Linked DNA regions of Homo sapiens. The protein of the gene in region 1 interacts with the protein of each later gene in a pairwise test. Each region holds a gene or a part of one and is shown on either strand. Other genes may lie near its edges. The genes, in order: LMTK2, PPP1CB, DUSP29 and PPP1CC.

Region 1 (8,747 bases):
CCTTCTTGCCTGATGGGCAAGTGCAATCTATATATTTACATAGCTTTATTATGACTGAATAAGAAAATATCTTTTTCAGCTTCTGAGTCTAGCAATGAATCTAGATGATGAAGACACCATAGATAAATGATCTTCAGTTTAAAAGCTGAATTTCAGTTAACTGCATGCTTTCTCTAAGGCACCATTAAACTGGATAGACTGATCAGGCTTCAAGCAGAAAGAAGAACAAGGAGGCGAAAGACCCTATGAAATGGGTCTATCCTTATTTGAAAGTGTCTAGCTCTATCTTCACAAGGAGTGCAGGCTCCTAGATTACCAGAAGCTTTAGTTAGGTTTTTGGCGTGTAACTGCTCTTTTATCTACCATACATGGTCAAGCGGGATTCCTCTTTTTTAACCAGCGAGCTCACTAGTCAGGATTAGCTTAAAGGTTTTTTTTTAAACTTGGTCTAATATATCTTGGTCAAGAACCCACCTCAGCTAACGAGGATCAATAAACTCTTTTGGATGGAGAGACAAGCCCCTGAATATCTATGTCTGATTGTGCATCTTCCTTTCTTTTTTTTTTTTTTTTTTTTGAGACGGAGTCTCACTCTGTTGCCCAGGCTATGATGCAGTGGCACAATCTCGGCTCACTGTAAGCTCCGCTCCCTGGGTGCAAGCAATTTTCCTGCCTCAGCCTCCCAAATAGTTGGGATTACAGGCTCCCACCACCACGCACGGCTAATTTTTGTATATTTAGTAGAGAGGGAATTTCACCATGTTGGTCAGGCTGGTCTCGAACTCCTGACCTCAAGCAATCCACCCACCTGGGCCTCCCAAAGTGCTGGGATTACAGGTGTGATCCACTGCTCCCGGCCTGACTGTGCGTCTTTTCCACAGACTTTAACCCTAGGTACCCATTATTCATATGCAACACGTCAAAACATATACACCTATCCTACAAAGATCAGAATATGAAAGGAAAATTTGTAGCAAAAGTTGCTACAAATTACCAAATATTTCCTTATGCTATATGTATGTCAAGATTTGATATCTCTATTTACAGATTAACTTTTCTGATTGCTTTGTTCTACAACACCCCAACAAAATTCATTTTATAATTCATGACACCATAAAATTGTAAAAGAATGGAATAAAAACCGTGTAAGAAGTGTACAGGTGGCCAGGCGCGGTGGCTCACGCCTGTAATCCCAGCACTTTGGGAGGCTGAGGCGGGTGAATCACGAGGTCAGGAGTTCAAGACCGGCCTGGCCAAGATGATGAAACCCGTCTCTACTAAAAATACAAAAATTAGCCGGACATGGTGGCAGGGGCCTGTAGTCCCAGCTACACAGGAGGCTGAGGCAGAGAACTGCTTGAACTCGGAAGGGGGGGGTTGCAGTCAGCTGATATCGCACCGATGATGCACTCCAGCCTGGGTGACAGAGCAAGACTCCGTCTCAAAAAAAAAAAAAAAAAAAAAGTGTGCAGGCAGACATAGGTTCCTATAAAGAATCGATACTTCAAAATATATAAAAATCCAATTAAGTGTAAAGTCATCTGGAAATTTCTTGAATCCCCATCATATAAATACTCTTTACCTACTACACTATACTAGTGCTAACTTTCAATATCAATATCTTTAAATATCAACATCACCATCCTTCCACATAATCTTTCATTATTTCCCAGGCATTTCCTGTGACTCTTTCCGGGGTTGCCTATACACATCTGATAACATTTACTCTTCTTATCTATCGGATCAGAAAACAGAATTCACCTCACAAGTATTTGATCTAAGGCAGTAACAGAAATTTAGTGCTACATTATACGGTACAATGAGGACATTTAACGTTCAACTAAAGGGCACTCAATGACAAACCCTGATGTAGCTCTGGAAGCAATTACATGTAGCTTTCATCGTAGATTTGTTTGAAAAATATGTCTTTACTGGAGACAGTACATCCACATTCTGTACCCAATTAACATTATTCCAAAATAACTCTTGACCTCGAGAGTATTCCAAAACAGTTACAAGACTTAAAAAAAATCATACAACTAGGGGTATCTAAGACCTGGCTTTGGGGCTCTGCCTACAACGAAGCTGTGTCACCCTGGGTAGGTCATTTGACCCAACATGCCCAGTATCTCCTACTACGTAAAGAAGAAATTGGTCTAAATTTTCTTTAAGGTCTCTTCTAACTCTAACATTCTATGAATGTATGAAATTTCAATCTTTCCCCATTTCAAAGGTAATGGCGGCAGTCAATAACGCCAAGTTAGCCTAGATTTTTTTTTCCTTTTTAGAAAAATGACCCAACTTGGGATGTTTTCTTGGGTTGAAGTTTTATTTAGGAAAATAAACCCCAAATAAAAACGATGTTGAGAAAATGGGCGGGGGGGGAGAAAAGAAAATCATACACTGACGTTAGCTAAAATAGAAACTTCCATCACCCTTAAGCCAGTTTGTCAATAGTTATTCAACGCCTGCTACTCTAATCACTGGCTTCCTAAAATAGAAATATTTATAGTTGTTTCCTTCTCATCCCCGGAGATACATTCCGAATAAAAAGCACAGCGTCTAAAATCAATTTACAACTTCAGAATAAGTTGCAAGGAGCGAAAACAAACTCCGCACAGCTCGCCAAGTCATTTGCATTTAAGTATGATTAGGGCTAAGAAACGGTTCTTATGAGATGCGAAAAAAAAGCACAAGAGGCAGGTGACATCTGGAAAGGGAAGCTGAACTGCCAGGAAGCGATATAAGCTGAGGATCTTAAGGCAACAGGTCCAGGGCCGGCACCGCAGCCTATCCCGGGAGGGGTCGGTGGCTGCTACCTCGCCCGCCGCCCTCCCCAGCCCCAACGACGTCGCCTCGCTCCCGCCCCCCCAAATCCCACGCCCCTGCGGCAGAAATCTCCCTAATCACTCGCCTCCCTGGGCTTCCCGCCCCCGGCAGGCCCTCCGATTCCTCGGCGCCGAGGCCGGCCCGGCCCTGCCGCCCCCTCCCCTCCACGCCGAAGACCCCGCAGCCCCGTCCCCGCCGCGGGCCCGCTCACCTGCACCTGTTTGCGGAAGTGGCGCGGCCCCAGCACTGCCGGCGATCAGGAGGACCAGCAGCAGCAGCAGCAGCCTCCGCCGCAACGCCGGCGGCCCCGGCATCTCGCCCACGGCGCGGCTCCGGGGCCGGCCCTCGAGTCGCCTTCCGTCCGTCCGTCCGTTCGCCCGTCAGTCGATCCTGCCTCCCTCCGCTGCCTCAGTGGCACCCGCGCCGGTTGCTCCCGAGCACACGTTGCTTCTGCCAAACCTCGGTCCGGCTCCCGGTCCGCACCTGCCGCTCCAGTCGCAGAAACACCATCCTTCCCGCCCGCCTGCGCCGCCGCCGCCGCCTCTCAACAGCAGCAACGCCAGCAGCCCTGCGGAGCGGCGGGCCTGGGAAGCCGCGCTCCCGCCGCCATGATGGGCTGCGTCATGTGACGTAGCGCGGGGGCGGGATGTCGTGATGGACAGGGCGGCCAGCCACTCGTCAGTCCACACCGGCCCAGGAGGCCCCGCCCATCATCCTGAAGGAGTGAGCGGTGGCGGCCGGTGCGCCCCCTGCAGACGGAGGAGTGCGTGGGCAGCAGGTAACACCAACAATTATTTTAAATTGAAAAATACAGGAAAATGTAAAGAAGACCATGACAATCATCCTGATATTTTTTTCTCGGTGTTTTATAACATGCAAAAATAGGCCTGTCTTGTCTTCTGCCTTTTTTTTTTTTTTACTTGTCAGAGCTGTTTTAGGCTCTTCTCCTTAAGTTGACCTACACATCCTCTCAGCCATCAAACAGCTTTGGGCTTTTCACTTGAATTGATCAAGAGAATGCCTCTCTCGGCATCACCCACTGACTCACCTCCTGAGCTCAAGCTGTTGCCTCTTGTCCACCTGGCAGACACTCTTCCTTTCATCTGTCGAGACTCACCTGACATATGACTTCATCTATGACTCTCTAGGAGAAATGACTGTCATCTCCTTAGTGCCCCGCCCTGGCCCTGTGTGGACTGCTATCCTAGCTGCAGTATCCTATTGACCCGTGACTGTAAGCTCCCTGAGGACAGCAACTGTGTCTGATTCAGCTGGTGGGAAATCCCTGGTGCAGGACCTGGGTCGGAGCAGGTGTTCTCTAAAGCAATGGTGCATGGCCCTGGTCCCAGGTACCAGGGCAGAGCAGCTCCCAGGGGTGGCCTTCTCCCCACCAAGAGGTGAGGTGAGAACACAGTCCTGCAGAGAGGATAGAGAAAGCACTCTCCAGACACAAGTAATATAGTGGTCAGAGGCATGGGGGTTGGGAAAATGCTAAGCTTTTCTGGAGAGGCGCTATGGTTCAGTGTGTGCATGAGAGGAGCTGATTTCAATCTTATCAGATGAGACTTTGCCACCTGGCAACAGTGTAACCTCCCCAATTCTCCAAACTCCCCAAATGTCCATCCTAAATGCCAGCTGTCGATGATGTTAACACAGCACTGGACACACAGATGATGCCCAGGGAATATTTGTTGGATGATTGAGGCAAGCCAATAAATATCTAAGGAGACAAATACCTGGAACGAGAAACATTGAATTTAAAAGTCCATGGCTTGGCTGGGCACGGTGGCTCACACCTGTAATCTCAGCACTTTGGGAGGCCAAGGTGGGTGAATCACTTCAGACCAGGAGTTCAAGACCAGCCTGGCCAACATGGTCATACCCCATCTCTACTAAAAATACAAAAAGTATTAGCCAGACACGGTGACGCATGCCTGTAATCCCAGCTGCTTGGGAGGCTGAGGCAGGAAAATTGCTCGAACCCAGGAGGCGGAGGTTGCGGTGAGCTGAGATCACACCGCTGCACTCCAGCCTGGGCGACACAGCGAGACTCTGTCTTAAAAAAAAAAAAGTTCACGGCTTTCTGCTGATTATATGCAGAATTGGTAAGGAAGGCAAAGGTCTAGGAAAGAGACACAATCACCCTGTTGTACTTCTACTTCTTTTTTTTTTTTCTTTGAGACAGAGTCTGTCTCTGTCACCAGGCTAGAATGCAGTGGTGCGATCTCAGCTCACTGCAACCTCTGCCTCCTGGGTTCAAGCGATTCTCCTGCCTCAGCCTCCTGAGTAGCTGGGACTACAGGTGCCCGCCACCACACCTGGCTAATTTTTGTATTTTCAGTAGAGACAGGATTTCACCATGTTGGCCAGGATGGTCTCGATCTCTTGACCTCGTGATCTGCCCACTCCGGCCTCCCAAAGTGCTGGGGTTACAGGCATGAGCCACCGCGCCTAGCCTATACTTCTACTTCTATCAGGAAGCTTCTCACTTTGAGTTCAGAGAAGCCAGGGACACCCACACTGTGTACTGCAAGGAGGCTCGTGACTGCCTGCTGTAGTGCTGGCCTAAGGAAGGCCTTACCTGATAATCCTGGTAGTGGTTATTTACAACTAAAGTGCACTCCAACAGCACGTTGGACCACAATCCCAAAGTAGATTTTGCTATTATTTGAGCAAGCCCAAAAGTTAAAACAAACAAACAAATAAACAAACTTCTTTTCCTCTTTCACAGAACAGGGGTTACAGTGCACATCCCCCAGATGATGTCTAAAGGCAGCCTTTGCCCCACCACCCACCTCACCGTGTATGCCTTTACTCAATACTTGAAGACTTCCAGTTAGAGATGTTATTAAACAAACAAAAACCTGTTGGCTTTGTTTAGTTTCACCCAGAAGTCAGAAAACAGCCTTTAGCACAATTTGGAAATCAATACCTAAGATTAGAAGCAATATCTTTCAGTGTTTTACAGCCATTCTTTTTTTTTTTTCTTTTTTGAAACAGGGTCTCGCTCTGTCACCCAGGCTGGAGTACAGTGGTGTGATCTTGGCTCACTGCAACTTCTGCCTCCCATGCTCAAGTGATTCTCCTGCCTCTGCCTCCTGAGTAGCTGGGGTTACAGGCGCCCGCCACCACACCTGGCTAATTTTTGTATTTTTAGGAGAGACAGGGTTTCACCATGTTGGCCAGGTTGGTCTTGAACTTCTGACCTCAAGTGATCTGCCCACTTCGGCCTCTCAAAGTGTTGGGATTATAGGCATGAGCCACCACGCCCAGCCCTTTACAGCCATTCTTGCAAGTTTTCCTTCATGCCAAGCCTCTTTCAAGTTTTCCTTCATGCCAAGCTATCGCTTGGAAGACCCTCCTGCCAGTGTCTGTCCTGCCAGCAAGCTCTGGCTGAGGCCTGGATGCTGAAGGATGTGGAGTCAGCTTAGTATTGGATGAGCACTTCTGGAGCTCTGGCACCTAGCAGATACTCTAAAGGTTCACAGAGCTCAGCTGGATCAAATGGGGCACCCAGGAGGCCTGTTGGTGGGGTCCTGGAGCTGCTGGTGCCAACTCATGAAAGCCAATTGTTAACATGTTCAGGAATTATGCGCATTGGTTGTTCAACACAGCCATTGTTAAAATTTAAGTTATAGGCAGTGGCTCACGCCTGTAATCCCAGCACTTTGGAAGGCCTAGACAGGTGGATCACTTGAGGTCAGGAGTTCAAGGCCAGCCAGGCCAAGATGGCCTGGGCATGGTGGCTGGCACCTGTTATCCCGGCTTCTCATGAGGCAGAGGCAGGAGAATCACTTGAACCCAGGAGGCAGAGGTTGCAGTGAGCTGAGATTATGCCATTGCACTCCAGCCTGGGCAACAGAGTGAGACTCCATCTCAAAAATAAATAAATAAATTATATAAATGTATAATTAAACAAATTATTTTAAAAACAAAGGTCATGAGGGAAGCATTTGGATACGATTTGGGCTTGTGTTCCCACCCGGTCTCATGTGTGGAGATGTAATCCACAGTTTTGGAGGTGGGGCCTGGTAGGAGGTGATCGGATCATGGGAGAGGGTTCTCATGAATGGTTCAGCGCCATCCTCTTGGTGCTGTTCTTGTGATGGCGAGTGATCTTTGACGAGATCTAGTTGTTTAAAAAGTGTGTAGCACCTCCTCCCTCTCTCTCTCTACTGTTCCCACCGTGTGAGATGCCTCGCTCCTCCTTTGCGTACTGCCATCATAGTAAGTTTTCTGAAGCCTTTCAGAAGCCAAGCAGATTCTAGCATCATGCTTCCTGTACAACTTGCAGAACCATATGCCAATTAAACCTCTTTTCTTTATACATTACCCAATCTTAGGTATTCCTTATAGCAATGCAAGAATGGACTGATACTTGAAGAATGGAAGGCAAGAAGAGCACTAGCAAAATTGTCCACATAAACTTCTTCAGAACTCTAGGAATTTGCCAGAGGTTTGCAATATCATGAGTCAATTTGTTAAAGAAAAATGGCTGAGGCCAGGTGTGGTGGCTCACGCCCGTAATACGAACACTTTGGGAGGCTGAGGTAGGAGGATCACCTGAGCCTGGGAGTTTGAGAGCAGCCTGGGTAACATAGTGAGACCCCAATCTCTACTAAAAATAAATAATTAGCCAGGCACAGTGGCACATGCCTGTAGTCCCAGCACTTTGGCAGGCTGAGATGGGAGGATTGCTTCAGCCCAGAAATTTGAGGCTGCAGTGAACTGTGATTCCACCACTGCACTCCAGCCTGTGCTACATAGTGAAACCCTGTCTCTTAAAATAAAGAAAAGGAAAATGGCCAAATCTCATAAGAATAATGAGCTTCATGAAATTTTTACTTGCCCTATTTCCATTCTTCTCTCCCCACCTCTGTGATAGCCTTGAAAACCAGCAACTTCACCACCATGGGAACTGTGGAAATAAGCAGGCTAGCAGCTACCAGAGGGGGCAGAATAGGTTTGGAGCTCCCCCAAAACCTGTATCCCCAAAGAACTGTGACTATCTGACCTGTCTGGCAGCTCCTTAGAAAGGCACTATTTTCAGGGCTTTTCTTCATTTGATATGACTCAGAAATGCCTCAGTGAAAATAGTCCTATCCTGTTTGTTGAAAATAATCAGTGACAACTGTTTAACATTGCAATTGCCTGAGCCAGTGATACCAGTTGGCTGATGAGAAACTTAAAAGAAAAATCTAGGGAATAATATGTCATTGGGAGCTTTGAAAAGATCCACCATATTATTGGAAATCTAGAAAGCCATGTGCATGTACAAGGCTATGAACATGGCTAGGAAATACATGAGAAGGCCCTCGTTTCTCATTCCTAGTTGATCATGAGGCTGTGCAAGCACAGTAAGGACTGGGGCAGAATTTTAAACTGCCAGAGCATCAGATGCATGCTCCAACACACATACAGAGACTCTTAGCAAAACCAGGGAGACATATTGGCTCAAATAATTTAAGGAGGCCAGGCACAGTGGCACACGCCTGTAATCCCAGCACTTTGGTAGGCCAAGTTGGGCAGATCGCCTGAGGTCAGGAGTTTGAGACCAGCCTGGCCAATATAGTGAAACCCTGTCTCTACTAAAAATACAAAAATTAGCTGGGCATGGTGGCACGCGCCTGTAATCCCAGCTACTCGGGAGGCTGAGGCAGGAGAATCACTTGGACCCAGGAGGCAGAGGTGGCAGTGAGCCGAGATCACACCACTGCACTCCAGCCTGGATGACAAGAGCAAAACTCTATATCAAAAAAAAAAAAAAAAAAAAAAAAAAAGAATTTAAGGATATCTCTGTAGTCATTAGCTGACCACTAAGCTAACTAAACAGAGACTTTGGTGGCCATTCACAAATTTTTCAAAATACAGAATTAGACCAGGAAAGGCCCTTTAAAAATGAATGATGGCAGCAACAG
Region 2 (7,818 bases), on another chromosome or scaffold:
TTGATACCGGCCAGGAGCAGTGGCTCACACCTGTAATCCCAGCACTTTGGGAGGCTGAGGTGGGCAGATCACCTGGGGTCAGGAGTTTGAGATCAGCCTGGCCAGTATAGTGAAACCCCGTCTCTACTAAAAATACAAAAATTAGCCAGGCGTGGTGGCAGGCGCCTGTAGTCCCAGCTACTCGGGAGGCTGAGGCAGGAGAATCACTTGAACCTGGGAGGCGGAAGTTGCAGTGAGCCGAGATCATGCCACTGCACTCCAGCCTAGGTGACAGAGTGAGACTCGGCCTCAAACAAAAACAAAAAATTAAAAGATTAAATAATTCATACCTATTACCAAGTCTACAATCAAATGTTCTCTTTTTTTGAGACTGAGTTTCACACCCATTGCACAGGCAGGAGTGAAATGGTACGATCTACACTCACTGCAACCTCTGCCTCCTGAGCTCAAGCGACTTTCCTGCCACAGCCTCCCAAGCAAGCTGGGACTACAGGTGCACACCACCACATCTGGCTGTTTTGTATCTTCTGTGGAGACAGAGTTTTGTCATGTTGCCCAGCCTGGTCTCCAGCTCCTGGGGCTCAAAGGATCTGCCTGCCTCAGCCTCCCAAAGTGCTGGAATTACAGACATGAGCCACTGCACTGAGCCACAATCAAATTCTTCAATGGTCTCAAAAATACTTTTTTAAAGTGTGGTTTGCTCTTATCAAAATCGCCATTATGCACAAAGATTATATAAAAATGAGGCTGGGCACAGTGGTTCACGCTCACGCCTGTCATCTCAGCACTTTGGGAGGCTGAGGCGCAGATCACTTGAGCTCAGGAGTTCAAGGGCAGCCTGGCCAACATGGTGAAACCCTGTCTCTACTAAAAATACAAAAATGAGCCAGGCGTGGTGGTGCGTGCCTGTAATCCCAGCTGCTCCGGAGGCTGAGGCAGAAGAATCGCTTGAGCCTGGGAGGCGGAGGTTACAGTGAGCAGAGATTGTGCCACTGCACTCCAGCCTGGGTGACAGAGTGAGACTCCATCTCAAAAAAAAAAAAAAAAAAAAAAATCTAAATCATATCTACAAAGCTTCAAAGAAGCACTGAAAATTTTGTTAGGTTTGCTGTATACTACAAAAATACATTCTTTTTTTTGAGACTGGGTCTAGCTCTTTCACAAGGGCTGGAGAGCAGTGACATAAACATGGCTCACTGCAGCCTTGATCTCCTAGGCTCAAGCGATCCTCCCACCTCAGCCTCCCACGTAGCTGGGACCACAGGCACGCACCACCACACCCAGCTAAATTTTTGATTTTTTTTGTAGAGATGGAATCTCATTTTGTTGCCCAGGCTGGTCTCAAACTCCTGTACTTAAGCAATCCACCCATCTCAGCTTGCCAAAGTGCTGGGATTATAGATGTGAGCCACCATGCCCAGCCCCAAAATATTTCTAAACATTTCCTCTTTTAGGGTGATAAAAGGTTAACAAATCACTAGATTGTTAAGTGTGAGATCCAGGAACTGGCTCTGCCACCTCTCCTACTGCTTTCCTTGTACAACTCATTTAGCTTTCTTGGATATGTTTCCTCAAAACAAAATGAGAGGGCTTATGTGAAGTTAACAAATAATAAATGTTTAAGAGTCCAGGTGTGGTGGCACACGGCTATCGTCCCAGCTACTTGGGAGGCTGAGGCACAAGAACTGCCTGAACCCGGGAGGCACAGGTTGCAGTGAGCAGAGATTGCGCCATTGCACTCCAGCCTGGGTGACAGAACAAGAATCTGTCTGCCCCTCCGTCTGCCCCCAAAAAAAAGAAAGAAAAAAGAAAAAGCTTAAGAGTTTTATATTTCATACCTGATGAGCTCGACAAATCAAATCTAAATCATGACGATTCAGAAATTTACTGACTACATCAGCTCCAAAAGTAAAGGAAACACCACGATCATTTTCTCCCCAGCCTTGCACATCCTTATCTGGATCAGACCATAGCAAATCACAGAGCAAACCTTTAAAGGACAGAAATACAGCAATTAAGAACAAAATTTACAGATTTATAGAATATAGCACATCTACATCAAATTTCAGTTCCTTTCTTGCCCTCTTACCTTTTACTAAACAATGACCATCACTTGCCTAAGTATTCCAGCCTATGTAACTTATACTTTTGTTAAAGCAACCATACAAACCATACAAATATAATCTTCCATGGCCTCTTAAGGTAGTACTTTCCAACCCTTTCCACATATAGGAAATATGTGCATGGCACTTACAGCACAACAATACATGGAAAAGGCTGTTCATCTTTTGGGTAGTTTCTCCATATGAATAACCAAACAACCCAGTGGTATTTCCTCAACAGTTCATCCTTTCCTTACGGTTCCACTGTTTCTGAGCACCACAGTCTATTCTGTTAGTCTATTTTACTTATCCCTGAGCCAATAACAGACTAGAGCTTTTTAATAAGTCTTTATATTTGGTAGGGCTAGTATCCTCCATTTTTTTTTCAGGATTGTCTTGGTTACTTTTTGATCTTTTGTTCTTCCACATAAACATTAAAAACAATTGCCTAATTCCATAAAAAACTCAATTGTGATTTCACTGGAATTGTATTTGATCTACAGATCACTTGAGCGAAAAAAAAACATTTTCTACTGAGACCCTGAGGATTTTTTTTTAAATGTGGAAGAACAAAATCAGATCAGATCCTTGACTTTGGTAATGTTTGGAGCCCTGGAAAAGAGGTCAGGGTTAAAAATATTTACTTGAGTATTGTCATCATATTAATGGTAGTGGAAATCTTAAGAGGGACTCAGACCACCTTAGGAATACAAAGTGAGAAGACCAGCAAATGAATTCTGAGGAATTCAAACATTTAATAGGCAGGTAGATGAGGGAGAATGAACATTAGGTATTGAGAAGGAATGATCAAGACAAAGGGCTTAGTATAGTAAACGTATCCCGAAAGGGGAAACAATCGTCCTAAAGTAGGAAATGTGCCATGAACAAGGGCAGTAGGACGAAGACCAAAAATGTGCCACTTACAATTAAATCATCAGACCTCAATGCAAGTTTCTTGGTGATTGAGGGTAACGGAGTGGGTAAAAGTCCAACTGTAGTGATATTAAAAGAAGGGTGGATGTTGAGATGGTGATGGTGATTTTCTAAGAATTGCAGTGGCTAAGAGAAGATACATATATATTTTTTTGAGACGGAGTCTCGCTCTGTTGCCCAGGCTGGGATGCAGTGGTGCAATCTCTGCTCACTGCAAACTCTGCCTCCCGGGTTCACGCCATTCTCCTGCCTCAGCCTCCCGAGTAGCTGGGACTACAGGTGCCCGCTACCACGCCCGGCTAATTTTTTGTATTTTTAGTAGAGATGGGGTTTCACTGTGTTAGCCAGGATGGTCTCGATCTCCTAACCTCGTGATCCGCCCGCTTCGGCCTCCCAGAGTGCTGGGATTACAAGTGTGAGCCACCGCGCCCAGCCAAGAAGATAATTTTTAAAGAGTTAAGTCAGTTTTAAGAATTTTAAATAATCCATAAACATCATAGTATGGTTTAGGAGGAAAGGGCATCTTCATTTTCAGTTACAGTACATCATATCTTGATAGAGGCATTATAAAACCATTTGTAGAATTAGTGGCAATGTATTCAATCTCTATCATTGATATATCCCAAGCTCCCTGTATGTTGTTTTAAGAAATTCACTAGCACACAAAATCCACTGGAATAGTCAGTCTCAATTCTTAAGCCCTTTCTGGTTGAAGCTGACTCTTCGAAAATATACACCCACCCAGTGCTTAATAATGCTTTCATACTTTCCAGCCTCTTTCCAGTAGAAAGCTAAGGTATTAAGAATCTATAATTTCTTTTTTTTTTTTTTTTTTTTTGAGACGGAGTCTCGCTCTGTTACCCAGGCTGGAGTGCAGTGGCACGATCTCGGCTCACTGCAAGCTCCACCTCCCGGGTTCATGCCATTCTCCTGCCTCAGCCTCCCGAGTAGCTGGGACTACAGGCGCCCACTGCCACACCCAGCGAATTTTTAGTAGAGATGGGGTTTCACCGTGTTAGCCAGGATGGTCTCGATCTCAAGAATCTATAATTTCAGTGAGACAATAAAACTGTATAAAATTAGAATAGAGTTTGAGGTTTAGGAAACATGACACTCTGGATGCATTAAAAAAATCAAATAATGGTAGCAACAACAATCTGGAATTCTTTAACCTTAACAGGGTCTAGATAAGAATTTCAGGCCAGGTATGGTGGCTCACGCCTGTAATCCCAGCACTTTGGGAGGCCGAGGTGGGCGGATCACCAGAGGTCAGGAGTTCAAGACCAGCCTGGCCAACATGGTGAAACCCTGTCTCTATTAAACATACAAAAATTAGCTGGGCACAGTGGCAGGAACCTGTTATTCTAGCTACTTGGGAGGCTGAAGCAAGAGAACTGCTTGAACCTGGGAGGTGGAGGTTGCAGTGAGCCGAGATCAGGCCATTGCACTCCAGCCTGGGCGACAAGAGTGAAATTCTGTCTCAAAAAGAATTTCAGAGTCAAGATTTATTGTTTAATGAGCTAGCATCACAATCAACTAGGCTGCTTCAAATAATGTATTAACTTATAAATTAAATTTCTGAATGTTGCAGACACTATCAAAGATCAAAATAACTGTTTTCAGCATCTTGAAAACTTCTCATTAAAATACGCTAAAATAAATAAAACATGCTAAAAACAGAAGCCTAGCATATCACACTAGATCAGTTTACATCTGAACTATAAACAGATATTCTGAAGAATGACCAGTAATACATATTTATATTATACCTTATTTTAAAAATAGCACTTTGGGTGTTTTTTGAAAGAGAGGGTCTCACTGTGTCACCCAGGCTAGAATGCAGGAGCACAATCACAGGTCACCGCAGCCTCAACTTCCCAGGCTGAAGTGATCCTCCTGCCTCAGCCTCCTGAGTAGCCGCGGTGCTGCGACATGTGGCTAATTAAAAAAAAAAATTTTTTTTTTCTCTGTAGAGATGGGTGTTATGTTGCCCAGGCTGGTCTCGACTCCTCACCTCAAGTGATCTTCCTGCCTTGGCCTCCCAAACTGTTGGAATTACAAGCATGAACTAGTGCACCAGGCCTAAAAACAGCATTTTAAATAAAATACTATTTAAATACCAGTTTGTTAGGTTTAGTCAAATGTATTCTATAATTACAATCAAAAACTGTGATAAAATGCATACTTTAAAAAATAATCAACACAACAAGTCGTGTTATGTAAAAAAGCTCATAACACAGGCCAGGTGTGGTGGCTCACGCCTGTAATCCCAGCACTTTGGGAGGCCAAGGTGGGTGGATCACAAGATCAAGAGATCGAGACCATCCTGGCCAACATGGTGAAACCCCATCTCTACTAAAAATACAAAAAATTGGCCGGGTGTGGTGGCGGGCGCCTGTAGTCCCAGCTACTCGGGAGGCTGAGGCAGAAGAATCACTTGAACCCGGGATGCAGAGCTTGCAGTGAGCCGAGGTTGCACCACTGCCCCCCAGCCTGGTGACAGGGCAAGACTCTGTCTCAAAAAAAAAAAAAAAAAAAAAAAAAAAAGCTCCTAACACAATTTATTACAACATACAGTGTATTACATGGCTACTGACATCAGAGGATCTATACCATTTATAATGGTTGATGTGTAGTTCTGAGCAGCATTTTTTGTGGTGATTGTTGTTTCTTTTTTCTTTTTTTTTTTTTTTTTGAGACAGTTTCACTCTGTCACCCAGGCTGGAGTGCAGTGGTGTGATCTCGGCTCACTGCAACCTCTGTCTCCCAGGTTCAAGCAATTCTCGTGCCTCAGCCTCTTGAGTAGCTAGGATTACAGGAACGCACCACCATGCCCAGCTAATTTTTGTTATTTTTAGTAGAGATGGGGTTTCATCACGTTGGCCAGGCTGGTCTGGAACTCCCGACCTCAAGTGATCCTGCCCACCTCAGCCTCCCAAAGCGCTGGGACTACAGGCGTGAGTGCCACTGCTCCCAGCCTTCCCAGAGATTTCCAATGTAATTTTCACAAAACTGACCACAGGTCTCTAGAGCCTTAAGAGCTCTAAAAATTTAAGCCAGGTATGGCACATGCCTGGAGTCCCCTAGCTACTCAGAAGAGGCAGGAGGATTGCTTGAGCCTAGGAATTCAAGGCCAGCCTGGGCAACAGATTGAAATCCCTCCCACACCCCCTTGAAAAAAAGCTCTAAAAATTTCAAATAGAGGACATAGAAAATAACAAAAAACTACTAGACATTTGAAAAGAAGGTAGTTGTATCCTTGCCTAAGAAGCAAAGAATAGATTATTTTAATTAAAAAACTTTTGTCTAATTTAACAAATTTTTGAAGAACATAACCAATGCTAGTATGAATGAGGGAATTTAGAAAAATAGGTATAAGGACTCAACAGCAAAATCTTTTTTGTGATCAAATAACTACATTATGACTATAAATAAAAAGGTTCCGCATTTTGAGGATCAGTGCAAAGTGAAAAATTGTGTATTACTGCAAATAAAGTAATCTGTAGCTGGCTTATTGACTATGAAAAAAGCTCTTTTATTTATTACATAAGCCAATCCTACTTCCACTAAATGTAATCAAGTTCAAATATGAAAACACTTTACACAAAACAATTAAACTTCTCTCTACACTTACCTGTATCAGGGACATCAGTAGGTCTCATAATTCTCCGAATCTGCTCCATAGATTGCAGGTCTGGTGACAATCCTATAAATAAAAAGATGAGACATAGTACTAACAGCTAAAAATTTTAATATTTTAACAGTCACCGAATAAAAAGCATTTAATCAAAATAGATTCACTATGTGAAATTAAAGATACTGAAAAGTGTTCCTTTTAACGTCTTTTTTTTTTTTCGAGACAGAATCTTACTCTGTCACCCAGGCTGCAGTGCAGTAGCGTGATCTCAGCTCACTGCAACCTCCACCTCCCGGGTTCGAGCGATTCTCCTGCCTCAGTCTCCCGAGTAGCTGGGACTACAGACGCGCGCCACCACATCCAGCTAATTTTTTGTATTTTTAGTAGAGACGGGGTTTCACCATGTTGGCCAGGCTGGTCTCGATCTCTTGACCTCATGATCCAACCACCTTGGCCTCCCAAAGTGCTGAGATTACAGGCGTGGGCCACCGCGCCCTGCCCCTTTTAATGTCTTAAAGGGCAACACAGAGTTATTAGGAATTCCACTTTGATATAATACAGCATTATAATTGTTTTTTTCCATTTTTCCCTACCAGGGAAATGAAATTCCTTTATATTTCAAAAGACTTCCCAAGGAAAAAAAAAACTACCATTCTTTTTTCCAATCATTCCCTGGCCTTCATAGAAACATAATCAACTGCAACCCTTCCTACCACTTTTGCCAGTTCTTACCACTAATCTTAAACATTTTAACTTCTAAGTGAAAGTGCCTCACTTGGTTCCCTAAGACCTTCTTTTCACATCCCACTCCAACATGTTCATTATCTTCATGAAGTCATAAACTATTGATCAGAAGGATTAACAGGAAAAGCTCATAAAAATACTCTGCAATCTTTGAAGTGGTATATAAGCTATTATTTCTCTCTGATAGGCAATCCAAGTATCATCACAAGGAATGAAGCTAAACATTCGTATCCATACTGCTACACTTCTATCCTTAGCTACACTAATGTACAAGAACTACAATTCATTACGTGTTTAATGTCTACTGGAAAACATATTTCAATTAATATAGTGAATTATGTTCTGCCAGAGAATAAACCATTTATTACCTCGGGCCTAGGCAAGTGCATCTATCTTTTCAGC
Region 3 (6,489 bases), on another chromosome or scaffold:
CACATTCTGGTTTCTCCAGGCCATTTCCATGCCTGGTCCTTGACGGCCGGCATCTCCAACAGCAGCAACTCTCTTTGGTTTCTGTCTGGTTTGGGATTCCTGGCCCTGGAAGCTGTCACTACCCGCTTCATGTCTGCTGCCGTTTTCTCCTTCAGAGTGGAAATCACGCAGCCATCGTGCCTGGCTTAGCTCTCAGGGAGGCAAACTCCACACCTGAGCTTACCTGGCTGCCCCATCGTCCCATTCCACAGCAGACAACAATTTGCAAATACTTTCTGCTATGACTGAAAAGCAGCTCGTGTTGCTTTGACTAGAACCCACGTGAAAAGAGCCTCCCTGAGGTCCCCGCTAGAGAGGGTCTCCTCCCTTTTTTTCCCCAAAATTAGAAAGTCAAACTCCTACTTGTCCAAACTCACCACAATTCATTGAATTTTTCTGAGTAGTGGCAGCCCTGGCTAAGAGTCTGAGGAGCCCTGCGTCCCTTGGGAAAGTGGGGGAAGCCTAAAGCAGGGGCCTCTGTACAGAGGTTCAGGACCCCTCCCCACCCTGCTGGAGGAGCACATCTAGAGATGGTGGCGTGAGCCTAGGGGTTCCGCTGAAAAGACAAGCGGCGTGCAAGGGATGCCACAGAAACGCAGGATGCCCGGGAAGGAGCCTCCACAGCTACGCAGGCACTCCCGTGACACTGCTCACCTGGTACGGTTCTGTGGTTGGAAAAGCAATTTCTATTTTAAAATACTTTTTATAAGAAGATGACTTTCCTTTCAGACAAAGCCAAACGTTTAATCACAACATACTGCCTACACATTTTAAAATCTTTTCCCTCTTCCTTCTCACCAAAAAAACAAAACCAAAGCAGGAGACTTGGTGCAGCGTGGCATGCTCCTCTGTGACCCAGAGCCGGGGAGCCCGTCCCTCCCATTTTGCTGAGAGGCTGAGCGCTCAGCTCTGCCCGGGGGCAGCTCTGGGTCCTCCCTGTCCCCAGCACACATGGGGAAGTTGAACAAGATGGTTTGGAAGAGTCGAGCTTCGGTTTCACCATCCCTTCTCTGGAGTCCTAGGCCAGGGCTATGTTCTGCCTCTCCCCTCTGTCCCCAAGTGCCTCTGCTGGCCCTGTGAGTCGGGCCTACAGCTCCCTGCCATCCTCCTCCTCACCGTCCTGGCGCTGGGACCGTCGCCTCTGCTGCACCAGCTGCTTGTCCAGCTCCCGGAGCTGCTTCAAAAAGCCCCGGTTCGGGAGGACGCAGCGGTTCTTGGCCACTTGCTGGATGGCGTCCACCAGGGTCATGTCCTTGTGGATCATCAGGTAGGCCAGGACCAGGGTGGCTGACCGGCTGCGGCCCATGACGCAGTGAACCAGGATCTTACCTGCAGATGGAGCAGGGAGGAGAAAACCCACACTGAGGGGCAGGTGTTGGGGGCACAGGTAGGGCCCACTCCCATCCTGACTGTCACCCTCTCGCCCACAGAAAGTGACTCAGCACTGTGCCCCACAGCTGCCTCTGTAGAACGGGGACACTCTCGGTGTCTTCTTCATAGGGTTGTTGAGAAGGCAAATAACCCTGTAAATAACTCGATTTTAGCACAATTTGTTTGTGCTAATGAATGGCTGCTGAGCTCCTACAGTGTGGCTGGGCTGCCTTTCCCCTGAGCACCATGGCCAGAAAGCAAGCACCCACTTCTTGATTGCTGTTTCGGATCTGGGGGAGGCTGGTCCCAGGTTCTCCCTGGCATGACCGCGCTCCTGGGGTGTGAACGTGTCCAGCTGGATGAATGTCCACCCCTGGCATTCAAATCCCACGGACCTTTCTGGAGGCTGCCGGGCCTCTGGCCAGCCCTGCTGATAACCAAAGCGTTTCTTCCTCTCCCAGAAAACAGGGTAATTCTTTCTGTCATGACTCAGTACTTGAAACAGATGAAAGCTGTAGTTCATTAAGCCTTTTGGGGGCCTGAATTCTGTTAAGTGGCAGAGGGGAGGGGAGAAAGAGTTGGAAGGGAGATGGAGGGGGTGGGAGGAGAGGGGGAGGTGGAGGGAGCAGGAGAGAAAGGGGAAAAGGAGGGACAGAGGACACTAAGCTCTGGTAGGAGTTCCAAGAGCTGAATTTTGTTTCCAAGACTAGGGCATGAGGCCGGGCGCGGTGGCTCACACCTGTAATCCCAGCACTTTGGGAGGCTGAGGTGGGCGGATCACTTGAGGTTGGGAGTTCAAGCTGGGTGAATGCACATGTGTTACTATTGGAGGAGTCAGGCCTATTGAGAAGAATCAAGGTCCAGGCAACACTTTTGTTCCTTCTTGTGGTCAGATTAGCTGAGACCCATCATGCCAGAGCACATCTCTTACCATCACAGGGGCCAGCACTATACCTGTGTTGGGCTTTTATTTCCCAACTTCTGTCAGAGCTCCTAGGGTCCCCCTGGCCAGAGCACACTTGTTGCAGTGGGAGAGATCAGCGCCCCTCTCATGCTTGGAGATACTTTTCTTCATGACTACAGTCAGAGCCCTTGAGGCATGCCTGACCACAGTTCATCTTTAGGAACAGCAGCAGCTAGTGCATACCTATGCTTGCAGGTCCTTATGTTCTCACATACAGTCAGAGCACCTGGAGCCCATGTGGTTAAAGCCTGGCCAACATGGCAAAACTCCATCTCTACACAAAAATTAGCCAGTCGTGGTGGTGCACCTGTAGTCCCGGCTACTCAGGAGGCGGAGGCAGGAGAATTGCTTGAACCCAGGAGTTAGAGGTTGCAGTGAGCTGAGATCGCGCCACTACACTCCAGCCGGGGCGACAGAGCAAGACTGCATCTCAAGAAAAGGAAACCCAAATCCAGAATCTCTACTGCTCCTCAATTGCATGCTTTTAGGAGTGACTGGAAGGTAGGCCTCTGTCACGAAAATCAGACGTAGGCTAAGACTGTTACCCTGCACCACGCTCCGCCCCGCAGCCAGGTGTGCTCCTTGCTAAGCAGACTCCTTCCTTGCTTTCAGGAGATGCTTTCTGCCCATCTCCCATGCACTATCTGGGAACCTGCCTTTCTTAGTAACTTGCAAAGAAATTCTGGTAGAGCCCTTACTTCTTCCCAAGAGGTTCTAGGTGTGTGGAAGTTCTGAGAAACAAGGTGCAAGGTGTATTATGAACTGCCGGGGCTGGAGGGAGATAGGGCAAGAGACCCTTCCAACAGTGAAAATCGGCTGGGCGTGGTGGCTCATGCCTCTAATCCCAGCACTTTGGGAAGCCGAGGTGGGTGGATCACTTGAGGCCAGGAATTGGAGACCAGACTGGCCAACATGGTGAAACCCTGTCTCTACTAAAAAATACAAAAATTCACCAGGTGTGGTGGTGGGCACCTCCCAGCTACCTGGGAGGCTGAAAGAGGAGAATCGCTTGAATCCGGGAGGTGGAGGTTGCAGTGAGTGGAGATCACGCCACTGCACTCCAGCCTGGGTGACAGAGCGAGATTCCGTCTCAAAAAAACAAAAACAAAAACCAAACAGTGAAAATCTGGTCGGTTAAAGCTTATTAGAAGCACCAGAGAATCAACCTCCTGCTTGAAAGCAGGCTTCATTTATTTATTCATACTTCCCTTATCCATAATATATTTTAAGATGCCTTCAGAAGCAGGCCATGGACTGCCAAAAGGAGAGCGTGATACTAAAGTCTGATCTTTAGCGCCTCGTGGCATTTGCCCTGGAGTTTCTTAGAAGACTTCATTAAATTAAAACCACACTAATTCACCTCGGAGGATGCCGAATCGGGGGCAGTTAAAGCAACCCAAGTGGGGTTCCTGTGACAGTATTTTGTGAGTACTTCTTTTTCTGATGAAGAGTGACAAATTCAGTTTTTTCAGATCCTATAACCAGCTGGCATGACTCGCCCTCCATGATATTCGGTGACCTCTTATACAGCAAAGTCACCAGGTGCTCAAAATAAGGGCAGAGGACTCTTCTGTGAGGCCTCGGTGACAGAAGGAATCCCCGCTGGTAGGCAGGTGTCCTGATGGCGCTGCCTCTGATTAGCTCTGTGACCCTGGGCACCTCACTTGTCTTCTCTGGGCCTCTGTTTGCCCAGCTGTCAGGGCAGGACCAGGGACTGGATTATCTCCGAGATATTTTAAGAGTGACTGAGGTTGCCTGGGGAGTTCTTTATAAAGGGTCAAGTCAGGGTAGTGATGGGATGGGAGAGGGCCCCAGGGGCTGATTACAGCCCACGAGTACAGCTCCACAAGGAACGCTTTTCAAAAAGAGTGAAAATGACCGGCTGTGAGAAGCCAGGTAGGGGGAATGGTGTACACTTGGCTGAAACCAGTCAATGAGAACAAAGAACATAGACAAGAGGAAGCAAGGAGTGATGCCTTGCTTTTTGGCCAGACTGTCTATCCACACCACTTACATAGAGAGTGTAAGAAACATACAAGTAGGTCCAGCACTAAAATGCCAAGCAGTGTCCCTTGCCTAGACACAACTGCATGTGGCAGGTGGGCTGAGCACCTGCCGTCCACTGGGTATGAAGTCTGTGGCATTGCTGCTGCTGAGCTAGCGGGCATTTTGTTTGGTTGCTCTGGCCACTCAGGGCACAGGTTACAACCTGATGGCCATTGGGTTGCTTTAGTCTGTCCTTTGCAGCATTTTAAGAAATTTCAATCTGTTGCCAAGACCTAAAAATCGAGTGATTTTATAATCCAGATTGGAGACTTCTGAAAAGTCAGATCTCCCACATTTGCACTGACTCTCACAAGACAAGCATTAGCTGAGGCTGGGTGGCAGGTGCCCCTCTGAAGGGGTACAGGGCTCTCTGCTTAGCCACAAGTGCCCCCTACCCACACCCCTCCGCTGTACATGCAGCCATCTTCATTTGTTTACACTCTGCATGGTTCTGCAGGGTAGGCGTTTGAGCCCTGACTTGAATTATTTAGATATGCCAGTGCAAAGGTGCTGAGAGCAGAGCCTACCCTGCCATCTCCAGTGGGGTCATGTCCTGCTCCCCATCCCTAGCCATCTGGTCGAGTCCCGGCACCCCCATCCATTCATTCTATCCCACTCATAGTCTCTGATCCAAGTATCTACTCTCCTCCGTTGGCCCTTTGTTTGCTAGGTGCCACCTGGTCTAACAGTCATGATCCACAGCAGCCTGACACCTCCTCATAATGTTCTGTCATCTGCCTAGGCCTAAGCTTCAACTTGAGAGCCTGATTCTTTCTGGATTTGGCAGTGGGGGCAGACCCTAAAATTGAGTGCCAGGAACCTACAACAAGCTTTCATGTGAGTATATCTTACAGTTCAAAGTTGGAATGTCTTTTTTTTTTCTTTGAGGATTGGAAACTTTACGATGATGATGTGCACATGCTGGCGTGGTTATATGCTTCACAGTGTATGACCACGCTTTATCAAATACATCCGAGAGCCTGCTGTCCACCAGGTTCTATGCTAAGCGCTTTACGCGCGTTACTGCTGATCCTCATTATAACCTCTGAAGGTAAATATTTTTATCACCGGATGGAGAAACCAAGGCTCAGAGAAATCACATCGTTAGTAAATTGTGTGACAGAAATGTAAACCCAGCCCTGTCTTCTCCGAAGCCTGCCAGGCCCCTTCCATGAAGGGTAAGGTCTAAAATATAGTAATGGCAAGTGAGTGCATTAAACAGAAACTGAAGGATTAGGTTGTTGCAGTCTTTGTTTTTTTCATGTCAAATGTGTTTTCAGTTAACTTCAAATACTATGAGGCAAATTTTACCTTGTGGTGATGACTCAGTTCAGTTGTGTTTTTGATCCTGCTTGGAAACCCAGAATGTACACAGCACAAAAGATGGTTCATAAATAGACTCATAAAAGGAAGGCCTGGAAATGAGGCATCTTCTAATACAGGCATGTTAGCTCTAAGGGTTTTTTTTCATTGTGACATTGCTTTCTGAGCCAAAATAATGACAAATTGTTGGTGGCTATGGTTGGCTGTGGGGCCAGGGCCACCTTGGGATGTCCATTAAGGTCTGATATTGTCCAGCAGACCTGGCCTAGGCCCAGCCCCAGGTTGCAAGTTCCTGCAGCAGACTATTTGGTCAGTCACTGAGCCTTGTAATCACAACCTCTTGTGGCAAGAAAGGCTTTCAGTAACCAGATACCCTGAATTATGTGATGGCTCCACAAAGGGGTGTGTGACACATTGGGCTGAAGTCAGAGCACAGATTAGGGAGCTGAAGTCCCTCTGGCCTCTGTGGAATTCCACTGAAGTACACCCTGCAGCAATAACTGTATATTGTCTTACCCCCGATGCGTCCCTAAGCTGTGCCCTTCTCTCCAAAATAGCCTTGTAGCCTTTGCTGGATTAGGGTAGCCAACAGTGCATTCTGAGCACAAAGACTAGCACTGTGATTTAAAAGCTGGATAATTAACACTGGGAAAACTTGGACGCTGGGGGTGCAAAACCCAAATTATACCTCAAATACAGCGTGCCAGTAAAGCCCAGCTTGTCAGCTTTCTACTGGAGGCCTCACG
Region 4 (7,818 bases), on another chromosome or scaffold:
CCTAGAGGGAAGGGGTTTAGGAGAGACACATATCTGATCTAAAAGCAATGACTTACATTTTCACATGAAATCTTTTTAAATTCCACAGAAGCATGAAACCAGAATTCCAGATTTGATAATGATTAAGGACTGCCATCAAATCCCAGGAATTATCTGGGAGCATCAATTCTGTTTGAAATTGTCTGCTCTGTCCAATCTCACCGCAGCTAGTCCCCTACTTCTGAATTCAATTACGAACTTACACATGTGGCGTTATGACCTTCCTTCTGAGGAAACCTGAGAGTTAGCACCCATCCCCCATATATGCCCCTCAATAACCTACTGACACCAGAGGATCCCCAGCCCTCAGTACTCTAGCAGGAGGCACAATGATCACACGGCAGTGGCTGCCTCTCACAGGCACTACAGGGCATTTGTTTCCAACACTGCACAGACTCCACATGCTCCCACAGGCCTGATGTCACAGGATGGTCATGTTCCCTCAACAGCACAGGCATCCACACATTCTGGAGTCAGAGTGCAGTTCTGACAGAAATATGCCTCTATGCACTGTTTCTACAGGAAACTGATGTTCTGAGTTTAAAACCTAGTCACATACCTTGCAAGAACAAATTTCTCTGGATTGGTTGAGGATTGTCCAATTGTCCAGATGCCTTTGTTTCCTGTACTTACTATACTAAGCACAATCTTTAAAAACCAGGAGTTTGGCCAGGCGCGGTGGCTCACACCTGTAATCCCAGCACTTTGGGAGGCCGAGGCGGGCAGACCATCTGAGGTTGGGAGTTTGAGACCAGCCTGACCAACATGAAGAAATCCCGTCTCTACTAAAAATATAAAAATTAGCTGGGCGTGGTGGCGCATGCCTGTAATCCCAGCTACTTGGGAGGCTAAGGCAGAAGAGTCACTTGAACCTGGGAGGCGGAGGTTGCGGTGAGCCTTGATTGTGCCATTGCACTCCGGCTTGGGCAACAAGAGCGAAACTCCGTCTCAAAAAACAAAACAAAACAAACAAAACAAACCAAGAGTTTGTCCTTAGTCTCTTTTCCTGGGGAATACAGGGACATCTAAAGGTTTAAACCTATACCTCTCCTTTGAGAGTTAGAGCCAGCCCAAGCAACTGACCTGAACCACACCTCCCACCCTGTAATGCAAATCAAGCAGCTTAGGGAGTTTACCACAGGGCTTGAAATGAAATGTAAATTCAACAAATGTTTGCCTTCTCTCTGCAGAGGAGTGTTATCTTTTCTCCTAATAATTTCTGGTTTCTCAATGACTGGGTCTAACACTGACTATGGTTCACCCTGTTGCATATTTCTTTAGAGGTCCTTCACTAGGGGGTTCGGAAAGTTTAACAAACTTCTCCCGCCAGGCTGAGGAAGGAAAATTGCTTGAACCTGGGAGGCAGAGGTTGCAGTAAGCCAAGATCGCACCATTGCACTCCAGCATGGGCAACAAGAGTGAAACTCCGTCTCAAAAAAAAGCAAACTCCTTCTTACGAAAGGCTGAAGGGCAATCTCCAAAAACCACCAACTCCCATTTCCAACAGCAATACTACTACTACTACCACCACAGGATGAGTATCCTTAATCCAAGATGCTCCAAAATTTGGAACTTTTTGAGCACTCACATGATGCTCAAAGGAAATGCTCACTGGAGCATTCTGGATTTCAGATTTTTGGATTAGGGATGTTTAACCAGTAATTATAACACAAATATTCCAAAATTAAAAACAAAAACAAAAAACCTGCAACACTTCTAGTGCCAAGCATTCCCGGTAAGGAATACTTAACCTGTATTATAAAAACAGAGCTGCTGTCTTAGCTCCCCAGTGACAGTGACTTCCTCTTTCCCCAAGGTCAGCTTCACTTCTGGATACTTTTTTTGAGGTGGGGTCTCACTGCATCACCTAGGGGGAATGAAGCGACGCAATCTTGGCTCACTGCAACCATGGTCTCCCAGGTTCCAGTGATTTTCCTGCCTCAATCTCCTGAGTGTCCGCGACTACAGGTGTGCACCACCACAGCTAATTTTTGTATTTTTAATAGAGATGGGTTTTCCCCATGTTGGTCAGACCTCCTGACCTCTTGTGATCAGGTTGAACTCCTGACCTCAAGTGATCCACCCACCTTGGCCTCCCAAAGTGCTGGGATTACAGGCGTGAGCTACCACGCCCCGGCTTTGATTCTTTAGTTATGCCACATACTCCAGCTTCTCCTGCTGATTCCTGCTGGCTTCTCCATCAAAAATCAGTTTGTTTCCTCCTTTTCCCTCTCAGCACTTTAAGCGTGGGCCTGCCTCTTTCTATTCTCTCTTCATTTCCTCCCTAAGGCTACCTCAGACCACTAGGAACATCTGGCTCCTGAAAGGTTTAGCCAGGGTAATCGCCTAGCTTCCAAATCCTAAGATTCTGAGCCATAACCTGTAATGCGGTTTCGCATTACTGTACATCAGACAGCTACGGCAGCAGAAACAGATCAACAAACACTCATGTTTTACCCAACAACATATACCTCAGCCTTTCCATCACATTTACAAAGTTAAAAAAAAAAAAAAAAGAAATGGTAGTATAAAGTACTTATGTACCTGGAAAACAGGCAGTGGTTTTTAAATTGTCCCATGAAAATCAACATTTGAATACAACTTTTCATTTTAATAAAATTAGTTAAGTATTTTATATATATATTAAATGTCTGCAAGCCTTCAACCAAAAGCCACCTATGTCAAGGGCACTTTCATGCCCACAAGTAGACTGGATGGCAAATTATATCTGCCTGATGAGAGAGAGGAAGCTTGAGCATAAGATCTACAAATTGTGTTGATGACCAAACAGGAGTCGAAACTGATACCAACCAACACTGATCTTCTAAGTCATTTTTTAAAGGCCTCTGCATTAAGTAGAAACCGAAACTGATGCAGCCAGTATCATTACATTAGGATACACGTCACAAAAATGAGGTCAACTGGATTTGAATTCATCAGTGCAAACATGAAAAGTATTTGCTGGGCTAACAGCTATGTAAAAGGAATCCTTTAACTCAAGAGCAGGCCAGGCACGGTGGCTCACGCCTGTAATCCCAGCACTTTGGGAAGCAGAGGCGGGCGGATCATGAGGTCAGGAGATCGAGACCATCCTGGCTAACACAGTGAAACCCCGCCTCTACTAAAAATACAAAAAATTAGCCGGGCGTAGTGGCGGGCGCCTGTAGTCCCAGCTACTCGGGAGGCTGAGGCAGGAGAATGGCGTGAACCCAGGAGGCGGAGCTTGCAGTGAGGCGAGATCGCGCCCTGCACTCCAGCCTGGGCGACAGAGCGAGACTCCGTCTCAAAAAAAAAAAAAAAAACAAAAAACAAAAAACTCAAGAGTAACACTTGGAATAAGTATCCAAAACACAGTGTTGGCTGGGTGTGGTGGCTCATGACTGTAATCCCAGCACTTAGGGAGGCTGAGGTGAAAGGATTGCTTAAACCCAGAAATTACAGGTGGTAGTAAGCTATGATCCCACCTCTGCACTCCAGCCTAAGGCTCTGTCTCAAAAACAAACAAAAAAAACCCATCACACCTGCCTTGCATTTCACTACCTAAGGAGTAGTAACTGGCTTACTGGTACTTCTCTGACACAGAATCACTGTTAATATTGAATACCTTTCATGTACAAGTTCAATGCTATCAGTCAGTCCAGAACCCATAGAATTTTTGTCCCTGATGATTCCTGCCACCCCATCTTATCAGCTGGATCTCAAGGTCACAGACCAAGCAAACATCCAGTTGTGGGAAAGGGTGGTAGTAGAAGGGCTCAGTTTGTGAATATAATCTTTCTAGGATGCACTTCTAACAAATGTGCTAGCTCAACATATCTATGTGAATTGAGATGGAAAAACACTGCATCTGGAGACTCTAGGTTACGATGTGGTCTAGGGGAGGGCCACAGGGACAACCCTTTGCTGATATCCCTATAATCATATTAGCAAATGCCAAGTACCTGAAGTTCCTTAACCACCTCTTCACTCCAAACCTGAAACCCGTCCTGGCAGCAATGATGAGCACAAAAGGAAGGTGAAGGTAAAGATTCAAAACCTTTTCTGACTTGAAACCCTTTACTGAACTGATATTTTCAAAGCTTTTTTTTTTTTTTTTTTTTGAGACGGAGTCTCACTCTGCCACCCAGGCTGGACTACTGTGGTGTGATTTTGGCTCACTGCAACCTCCGACTCCTGGGTTCAAGTGATTCTCCTGCCTGAGCCTCCTGAGTAGCTGGGACTACAGGCATCTGCCACCACGCCTGGCTAATTTTTGTATTTTTAGTAGAGATGAGGTTTCCTCATGTTGGCCAGGACGGTCTTGATCTCTTGACCTTGTGATCCACCCGCTGTGGCCTCCCAAAGTGCTGGGATTACAGGCGTGAGCCACTGTGCCCAGCCTATTTTCAAAGCTTTAAGAACTGTGTTTTGTCAATAGTCAAATCGAAGTATACCTTTAATTAAACAATCCAAAATGGGTCACAAAATGTGTAAAATACTGTAAAAATAATCTTTGTTCAGCACATTTTAGTTTTAGGAAAGTTATTGCCATTCTTCCTGGGTGTGGATATGCCAGAAGGAGAAAAACTATAATAATTTCAAAAACTAATTATTTACGTATTGCAAGATTCCATTTGCATGCAATATTCTCTAGAAAAGACAAAAAGTAGATTAGTGGTTGCCTGGGGACTATGGTGATGGTCGCATAACTCTATAAATTTACTACAAATCGCTGAATTGTACACTTTTAACAGAATAATTTTATGGAATGAAATTACATAATAAAGTTGCTTAAAAAAACTATTTGGAATGGTTCTCAGATTTCTACTAAGAATTAAGTTATCTGTGAATACAACAATTTAAATCTTAAAGCAACCATTACCATGATCATTACTTCCTAATCTGATCATCACATCATAAAAGAATCCAAGACCTTATTTTATTACAGCGGCAGTGTTATTTTTCTACCCAAGAGAGAAAAAACTGGCTGGGCATCATGGCTCACGCCAGTAATCCCAGTACTTTGAGTGGCCTAGGCGGGCAGATTCCTTGAGCCAGGAGTTTCAGATCAGCTTGGGCAACAAGGTGAAACCCCATCTCTTCAAAAAAATACACAAATTAGCCAAGCGTGGTGATGCATGTCTGCAGTCCTAGCTACCTGGGAGGCTGAGGCAGGAGGATTGCTTGAGCCTGGGAGGCAGAGGTTGCAATGAGGTAAGATGGTGCTACTGCACTCCAGCCTGGGCAACAGAGTGAGACTCCGTTCCCCCACCCCCCTAAAAAAGCTAAGCTAAAAACAAGTTGATGAAATAGAAAACATGAGAGATGATACCACTGCATCTAAACTCTCACAATTCCTAACAGAAGTATGTGATAATTGTTTATGATAAATATCTTAATTTCAATAACTCTTCCTTAGATATAGAAAAGTACTTACATTCATCATAAAATCCATAAATTCTGTTGATGCTGGCACATTCATGGTTCCCTCTGAGAAGAAAAAAATTCTCAGGATATTTTATTTTGTAGGCCAGTAAGAGGCAGATCGTCTCCAATGACTGCTTTCCCCTGTCCACATAGTCCCCAAGAAACAGGTAGTTGCTTTCTGGTGGGAAACCACCGTACTCAAAAAGTCGCAGCAAATCATAGTATTGTCCATGGATGTCACCTGGAAGCAAGAATTTTGTTACACAGTGTTCCCATACTTAAAGCTCAATCCACTAACAAAGCTTTGGAAAGACATTCTTTAAATATTCATTGTACAATGGCATTGACCTCTAGTAATGAGAGTTTAACTGGGCAGCCAACACTAAGTAATTTCCAATCTTATATCATATTTAGTTCAACTGAGCTTAACAAAAATTTTAAGTATATGTGTATGTCCAGAACCTCACATAAAATTCAACTATTAAGAATTTATTCTGTGGAAAGGGTTATTATGTCCAAGCATGCATTCTTGCCAAGTAACATGGTATCCCTTTCAGGCTGACTGATCAATATCAGATCTCTGACAGCTCAGTCTCTGGGTACTGTGTCAGCAGAACTGCTGCACTTCTAGTGAGTCTTGGCCCCATCTGAACAAAAGCACATACACACATACACACCACCCCCACCCCCCACCCATCAATGCATTTAGCTTTCAATTTCTCCCTGCTAGATAATGCCAAAGAACATTTTACTTTTAAAAACATGAACACAAAGTTTTATCAATGCAAATATGCTATAAGAATATATTACTCAAACGAATAAAGTTTGGTTTTACATTGAGTTAAAACACAGATTATTTGCTTCTATTATGCAGAAAACAGAACCACAAAATCAGTATCAAGGAAGTTCTATTTTTAGCTATAACCAGTGTTGCTTTAAACTTAAACATATTCCTATACATCCATGTAGTTCAGACCTTTCCTCAGCTCTCCATTCTTAGTTTCATTTTTTTCTTTTGCAATGTTTATTCCTTCAGCAAAATATTTTTTTTAAAAATCTGAAGTACATCTAAGTAAACTAAGTCCATTAGAGGTATTTATTCTAAAGCTACTATTTAACTTACTTTTAAGTAGTTCCAAGCTATTCGCAAACAGGATAATCATTCTGCTAGCTAATACAAGGTCATCAACATATCCTTGACTCAGTTAATCAATCATGTAACAAAAGATAACCTGTGTGCCCCAAACTTACCACATATTTTGAGTGGTGCTTCAAGTTCTAGTAGGATAGGCTGACTGAGAAAGATTTCACGAGACTTTAAGCACAGTCCTCTGATTTCATTCTCCTGAAGCTGGACATTCTTACCAGGCTTGGACCCTCTCACTGCAAGAGAAAAATCGCAATTAGTCCAATGAAGCCAAAATACAAAATACAATACGAGATTTAGATAAAGGGGCAAAAACATGGTTTAACTAGCTTTCTGAGTGGCTTCATTTTCAGGACACTTATAATAAACATGGTTTTAATGTCTAATTAGAATCTTAAAATCTTAGACAAGACTTAATTGCATCTTCGATACCAAGTAAGACTTCTTTTATAGTATTCCAAAAAAGGAGCCATCCTGTCTGTGCGAATGCTGTTAGAAACAGGACTGCAGGCCAGATGCAATGGCTCACGCTTGTAATCCCAGCACTTTGGGAGGGTGAGGCGGGCAGATCATGATGAGGTCAAGAGATCCAGACCATCCTCGCCAACATGGCGTGCACCTGTAATCCCAGCTACTCAGGAGAATCGCCTGCACCCGGGAGGCGGAGGTTGCAGTGAGCCAAGATCGCGCCACTGCACTCCAGCCTGGCAACACAGCGAGACTCCGTCTCAAAAAAAAAAAAGAAAAGGAAAGAAAAGAAAAGAAAAGAAACAGGATTGGAAATACTCAGAACCCTCCCCCATCAGTGTTTTCCAGAGGACCATGGGTATCTCCTCCTGAGGATCTCTGATTTAATTTACCTATGAAAAAATGTTAGTGTTGTTTTCATTTCATTAAGAAAATGTTGGTTCATTGTACTTATTTTGCCATGCATTTTCTGGGCCTGCATTTGTGTTTATGCTCATGTCTATATAGGGCAAAGGATGTCAGTCATGTGCTATACTGTAAGAAAGCACGTTCCCTAATAATTTGAACAGATAAGATAATAATGGGAGAAAGAAATCATTGCACAGCATGGGGCATCCACACCACCAGAGCACTTAGGGTTCTTCTATCAAAGTACAAACTTTGCAACAGAACTCACTTGTCAGCACGTAGGTAGTTGTGGGAAAGAAATTTTGTTTTGGTTCCAGTTGTAACAGACTGGATAGTCATTAGATACAGAT

What was found.
Region 2: the proteins of LMTK2 (region 1) and PPP1CB interact in a two-hybrid assay, tested with the Homo sapiens proteins (one study listed by BioGRID and IntAct).
Region 3: the proteins of LMTK2 (region 1) and DUSP29 interact in a two-hybrid assay, tested with the Homo sapiens proteins (one study listed by BioGRID and IntAct).
Region 4: the proteins of LMTK2 (region 1) and PPP1CC interact in binary tests that used the Homo sapiens proteins (3 or more experiments, as listed by UniProt).

The regions. Positions count from the first base shown.
Region 1 is NC_000007.14:98,101,574-98,110,320, reverse strand, and holds the start of LMTK2 (serine/threonine-protein kinase LMTK2 precursor), read right to left. Parts: upstream 3,460-8,747; 5' UTR 3,144-3,459; coding exon 3,041-3,143; intron 1-3,040. UniProt on the Homo sapiens protein: Phosphorylates PPP1C, phosphorylase b and CFTR.
Region 2 is NC_000002.12:28,782,830-28,790,647, reverse strand, and holds part of PPP1CB (serine/threonine-protein phosphatase PP1-beta catalytic subunit), read right to left. Parts: intron 6,742-7,818; coding exon 6,670-6,741; intron 1,991-6,669; coding exon 1,839-1,990; intron 1-1,838. UniProt on the Homo sapiens protein: Protein phosphatase that associates with over 200 regulatory proteins to form highly specific holoenzymes which dephosphorylate hundreds of biological targets.
Region 3 is NC_000010.11:75,036,710-75,043,198, forward strand, and holds the end of DUSP29 (dual specificity phosphatase 29), read right to left. Parts: intron 1,369-6,489; coding exon 1,127-1,368; 3' UTR 763-1,126; downstream 1-762. UniProt on the Homo sapiens protein: Dual specificity phosphatase able to dephosphorylate phosphotyrosine, phosphoserine and phosphothreonine residues within the same substrate, with a preference for phosphotyrosine as a substrate. Involved in the modulation of intracellular signaling cascades.
Region 4 is NC_000012.12:110,725,074-110,732,891, forward strand, and holds part of PPP1CC (serine/threonine-protein phosphatase PP1-gamma catalytic subunit), read right to left. Parts: intron 6,829-7,818; coding exon 6,697-6,828; intron 5,687-6,696; coding exon 5,456-5,686; intron 1-5,455. UniProt on the Homo sapiens protein: Protein phosphatase that associates with over 200 regulatory proteins to form highly specific holoenzymes which dephosphorylate hundreds of biological targets.